2 separate regions of the Homo sapiens genome follow, and region 1 is linked to region 2. Evidence: fine-mapped expression QTL. A gene starts in region 2. The other region holds a variant in brackets. All regions are shown on one strand. Distances are between the middles of the regions.

Region 1 (2,907 bases), 77 kb before region 2:
AATTAGGCTGGAATTGCCTCATTATTCCAGGTTCTCAGGGAAAACACGCTCTGGGAATCCCCTGTTCAGCTCACACCTGGCCCACGGTGAACCTCCCCTCCTGGTACTGTGTGGCCTTCCCACTTTTCCCGAGAGCTCCGGAGTCCTGTCCGACCGCTTGGAGTGGTGATGCTCATAGACCAGGATGGCTTTTCCAGGTCCTTCTGCAGATAAATGGGTGTGCCTATATTTGCTCTGTGAATTTTGGCATTGCAACTCACACAGGCAGCTTCTAAACATGAGGGCTGAAATGTACTCTTGTTTACTGCACACAGTCCTGGTTGAGGCAGGTATGAGACACTCGTGGCCAGGTAATCAGACAGTCAGGATCTACACAGTCGCCTGAAGTAGACTGGCCCGAGAGGCAAGTCCAAAGCGGATGCTACTGAGGACATGCAATAGTTGAGGGAAGCAATTGGTATCAAAGGTCCCAATCCCAATGGAGGTAGGAGGGAGGGAGACAGGAGCAGCTGCTGCTGAAAGAGCCGACCTGGTGGGCGCGGTAGCTCACGTCTGTAATCCCAGCACTTTGGGAGGCTGAGGTGGGTGGATCACAAGGTCAGGAGGTCGAGACCAGCCTGGCCAACATAATGAAACCCCGTCTCTACTAAAAACACAAAAATTAACTGGGCGTGGTGGCGGGCGCCTGTAGTCCCAGCTACTCAGGAGGCTGAAGCAGAAGAATCGCTTGAAGCCGGGAGGTGGAGGTTGTGGTGAGCTGAGATTGTGCCACTGCACTCCAGCCTGGGCAACAGAGCAAGACTCCATCTCAAAAAATAAAAATAAAAATAAAAAAAAAGGCCGACCCGAGGCCAATTCCCAGGATGAGTTCTCAGACCCAGCGGCCACGCTTGAGCACGAGGTCATGCCTGTTCTCCGGACAGACTCAGATCCAGGTCAAGCCAGGCTGGCGCACAGAGTGATGTGGCACCAAGGGCAACCTCGGGCGATACCTGAGGGCTGAGCTGTAGTTCCCTCGAGGCAAGGGATGCCCTCGTGGCCTCAGCTGTGGGGCGAAGAGAAAATGGGCTGCAAAGCAGGGCAGGGTTTTGTTGCAGCGGCTCAACAAGTGGTAAAGCAGCAAGGCTGGCTTTGGAATCAGAAGTCTGGGGCTCTGACCTTGCCACTTCCTGCCGTGTGACCTTTAGAGTTAACTCTTGGCTGCTTCGC[A/G]AGAAACTCGCCAATATCCCTGCCCTGTCCACCACACAGAGTTGATGGGTCTAGCAGATAAGCTGCCATCTGGGAAGATGCTACGTAAACTGCAGGTCCCTGTTCAGACATTGTGGTGTTCTGCTGATCCACGATGCCTTGTATTTTGTCATCATCTTTGTCCTGGGAGGAATCACTGGGGTTTGACAACAGGTGACCAGCTAGGTGTCATACAGGGCCAGGATGGTCCCCCCGGATCCCAAGCTTTCTCATCTCCTATCTCGAGTCACACACAACTTCAGGCTGGGGACTGGGGAAGACAGGAAGAAATGAAGCCTCACCCCTTTCTCCAACCCACCTGGCCCATGAACTCTCCAGCCACGAAAGGGGTCACTCCTCCGTGGAGGCCCATTAGTTTCATGACGCACACTCCCAGCCCAGCTGCTAGTCTCTTCCAGCAGGTGCATGAGCAGGTTTGGCCACGGCCTCAACCCACTTTCAGGCACAGATCCAGCAAAATCAGACTCCATGTGTACTCACTGTCCTAGGAGTTGACATCGTCAAAATAACTTACTGGGTCGTTTCTGATTGTAAAAGTAATTGTATCTTCATTTCAGAAAAGTAGAAAATTTAAAACAAACACTATTAATCTTGGCACATTCCTTTTGCCTTTTTATTTCCATCAATTTCCCGTATCTCCCTGATTCCTGAAGAATTCCATCTGACCTCTAACTGCCCCTTCCTGACCCTACCGCAGGGAGGCTGAGTCCAGAGATCCTTCTTACTCCCTTCATTCAGCATAGAACTAGGGTGGGACAGTAAGGGTTAAGGGCATTACCAATTCCCAGTGACTGAATTGTAATGAGGATGAGATGCTAAATTAAAGTTTATTGCAGAATAAAAGTGTGTGCAGTCAGCATTTGTAAGAGGCTACAATGAGATGCCTTCTAGGACTTGGCAATACAATTAGGTAGAGAGTTAAAACAGTAGAGTGCACACGCAGATGAGATGCGCTGTCTGCAGGAATCACTTTAAAAGATCAGTTAGCTTTAGGAAAGGCAGAGCTAGTCTTGAATGCTAGTCAAGAGGTGATTAAACATGGAAGAAGCAATGGCCTCATCAGAGCATAGAGATATTTGCAGAGACATGGTATAGGGTGCGGGGTGGGGGGGCACTGTATGGAGGACAGAGAAGGGGACAAAGAGGGAAGCCTGTCAGTGTTTCTCCTCCACTGTGTTGGGACCAGGTGCACTGAGGTAGACGAGGCACTAGTCTGTGGGAAGGTATCTGCTGGGTTAGGGGGATGGAGTAATGCAGACAATGGGCCAAGAGTGCGGACTCTAGAGCCAAAGTGACCGGGTTCAAACCCTGACTGCCACTCATGTACGAGCTGTGCCACACTGGGTAAAGATGTGGACTTCTTGAGCTCTTTTCCTGATCTGTGAAATGGGGCTGCTTTAATCTCCCTCACAGGGTTGCTGTGGAGATTATGCATAGAAAGCTTAAGGTAGCCATTGAACTATAATTAATATTAACAAGGATTTTATTACTGATAATGACTTTATTTAGCAGTTCCTAGGAAGGTTGTTCAATAGACTCCAACCCTTGAAGCTGTTCTTTTCTGAGTATGGACTTGCCGCGCTGAGGCCTGGCCCCTGAGTCTTGGTGACCAAGCGACCCCCCCAAGCTCTGCCGGGCAGCAGCCTCCCTCGATGCCTG
Region 2 (2,907 bases):
GCTACTTAAGTTTAATCTATTTAAAAATCACAGGCAGGAGGCTAAACACAGAGAAAGGGTTTAGACCATTTGGTTCTAGCTTTTATAAATTGGTTTAAGACTATTAAGCTTACTTTCACTCATTTTATTTTGTAATTTTATAAGTCTCATTTATTTGGCTCTAAATTCTACATCTGGGTATTTAAGGAGCTCGACCTTCCAAACTGTTAATATTAACTTCTTGGAAGCAATCCCTCCCACATTAGCGCTTTTTCTCAATTTGGGTACAATCAAGGGGGAAACAATTGGATATCCAAGGGCTCCTTCTTTTAAATAGCAGCCCAGGAAGACAAAAGTGAGAAAGAAAAAGAGGAGCATCTTTAACCAGCAACCTTGAAAAAAGGCATCCCCAACAGCTGTCGCCAACTCAGCTGGCTCGCTCCCATTTCTCAAAACACCGCCTGGACGCCTTGGTCAAAAAAAGAAAAAGAAAAGAAAAAAAACCAGATTCCCGCTTCCCTGGGACAGGGAGCTCCCTTTTGTAGAAGTAGCTAAAGAAAGCGAGGCGCCCCACGGGATTTCATCTCGTCGTCAAGGCAGCGCCAACCCCAGCCGTCCGGCGCAAGGAAAGCTCCGGCGGGCCCGGAGCCCACGGCGGCCCCAGCCTCCGGCAGAGCAGCCCCGGCAGAGCCCGGAGCCCCGCGGCCGCAGAGTTCCGGCAGCGACCCCGGACGGCCCGGCGGGCGTCCCCCGGACCGCGGCGGAAGGCGGGAAGACGCGGCTCGACTTACAGTGACACCATCCTAGGTGACAGCACCAGTGCAGCTTGAAGCACTTGCCATGGCTGTGCGTGGCACAGATAGACAGCCCGTCGCACGGCTGGAAGTCGGGTCTGCGGGCGGCGCAACTCCGCGCCAGGGCCTGAGCCTCATCTAGTTTCTCGCTCTTCCAACCCCGCTCCGACGCCGGCGAGGCCGCCGCACTCATTTCCTCTCCCTCCGCGCGGAGCCGACACCGGGAGCCCGGGAGAAGCGACGTCTGGGTGGGCAGGAAGCCGAGCCGGCTGCGGACGCGGGAGGGCGCGGCACGGGCCGGGAGTCACGCCAGCACGCGGCGGCGGCGGGAGCGCGGCGGTCCCAGGCTCGAGGAGGAGCCGCCCCGGGCGCTGCGACCGGGTCCGGGCTGGCAGCCTCCCTCCCTCCGGCGCGGCGCGCGCCGCGCCCCACGCGCACACGCACGCGCACAGGCGCGCGCCGGTCGGCCCCGCGCGACGTTCCTCAGCGAGCCCGGCCTTCTCACACACACGCCGCTGGGGAGCTTGGCCGTCGGCGTCCCCGCCGGTCACAGCGAGGTCCTCCTCACATACTCACTCCTTCCTCGGAGAAAGACCCCGACGGAGGGCCGTGGTGAACACACACTCCTCGGCCGCTTTGTACTCACATGCACGCCAGCCTACATATGCACTTCCCCCCGAGTGACACTGGCCACCGAGAACTGACACACGCGTCCACACGCTCCACGGAGGGCTGCGCACACCTGGCCCACGCCCACCCGAACCTCCTAGTGGCCCGGGCCGGGTGCATCGCGTAGCGAGGATCTCACACACACAGCCTGTCCCCACAGGCGTCTCACATCTCCCTCGTACACACCTCCCCGTGTCTGGGCATGGAGCCCCTGGGAGGCGCGCACACGCTCGTGCACACGCGCGCACTCCCCCCACCCAGGGCGGGCCTCCTGCCCCAGCGCGGCCACAGGGCGCGTCAGGGGCCAGCACCGCCAACCCCTGCCCGCCTCGCCCCAAACCCCAGGCCAGTGCGCCCGGGCCTTCCCGCGCCCGCCCCAACCTTCGCCGGGACCGCAGCCCCTCCCCCTTCTCCTCCCACCCCCGCCTCCGTTGAGCGGGAAAGCAACAAAGCTGGGTGCATTGATGTGTGTGTGTGTCTGCGTATGTGTAGTTTGGTGTGCATGGGATGTGTGTGTTGCGTGCGTGTGTATGATTATTTGGAGTATGTATGGTGGGTATGCGTGTGTGGTTGTGTGTGGTTAGGTGTGTTCATGGTACATGGTGGGTGGTATGCGTGATGCAAGTGACTGGTGAGGTGTGTGTATACGTGTGTATGTGAAATGAATGTTATAACTGAGGTGGAGTGTGGGTGGTGTGTGTGTGGTTGAGTGTGTGTGGCGTGCAGAATATGTATATGTGTGTAGTTGGACGTGCATGTGCTTGTGCACGTGTTGTGGGGGTGGGTATGCTTAGTAATACAGAGTGGTGTGTGTATGGTATATGTGTGGCAGTGCAGTGCGTGTATCTGGCATGTCGAGTGTGCACATGGCATATACGGATCAAATCGGGTGTGTGTGGTACATAGGAGTGGGTGGGCACACAAACAGGACTCATGTATGCGGAGGACTCTGCCTTTCTGTGTTAGCGCCTGCTCTGGCCAGCAGGTGTGACTGACCCTGTGGTGGCTGCGGCTTCCCCACACAGTTGGCTCGCACTCTTCCCTCCTGGGGACAAGTTGCTCCAAATAGATTTTCCATGCCAGGCTCTGCTGCTGAGAACCGACCCCAGGCTGGATTCACTGAAGAGGAAACAAACCATTTGCTCCCATGGTGCACTGCTGGGAATTAGTGTTTCCCTGCAACAAGGCCAGAACCCAGCCTTGAACACAGAAGAGGAGGGGACACCCCCTCCTTATTTGCCAAACGCACAGAAGAATGCTTGTTCAAGGAACAAGGCTTTCAGCACAAACACTGTGTGGGAACATGTTTATGCCCAGGTCCACTTTCTCCTTTATGCCTTTCCTGCTTTGCACTGACAAGAGACTCATCATGGTTTTGAAACAACCAAATTCATCCTCAAGCTTGAAAATCCTTGCTGCCATAAGCAATCTTTCATAATTTTCCCTTTTATGTAACCTTGGCTTG

Evidence for each region. PIP is the estimated chance that this variant, and not a neighbour inherited with it, causes the effect.
Region 1: its variant is the best candidate, but not a certain one, in a credible set for the expression of C3orf70 in lung (TOPMed, PIP 0.53).

Annotation. Positions count from the first base shown.
Region 1 is chr3:185,074,782-185,077,688 of GRCh38, forward strand. It overlaps C3orf70 (chromosome 3 open reading frame 70), which reads right to left. Exons shown (of 2, transcript NM_001025266.3): 2 at 2,057-2,907. Among named protein-coding and RNA genes, the nearest start is that of C3orf70, 77 kb to the right of the region's middle. RefSeq lists an enhancer at 335-835. The variant A/G (reference allele first, on the strand shown) is at 1,210.
Region 2 is chr3:185,151,858-185,154,764 of GRCh38, forward strand. It overlaps C3orf70 (chromosome 3 open reading frame 70), which reads right to left and starts at 1,203. Exons shown (of 2, transcript NM_001025266.3): 1 at 771-1,203. The coding sequence starts at 966. RefSeq lists a silencer at 609-828 and an enhancer at 1,249-1,388.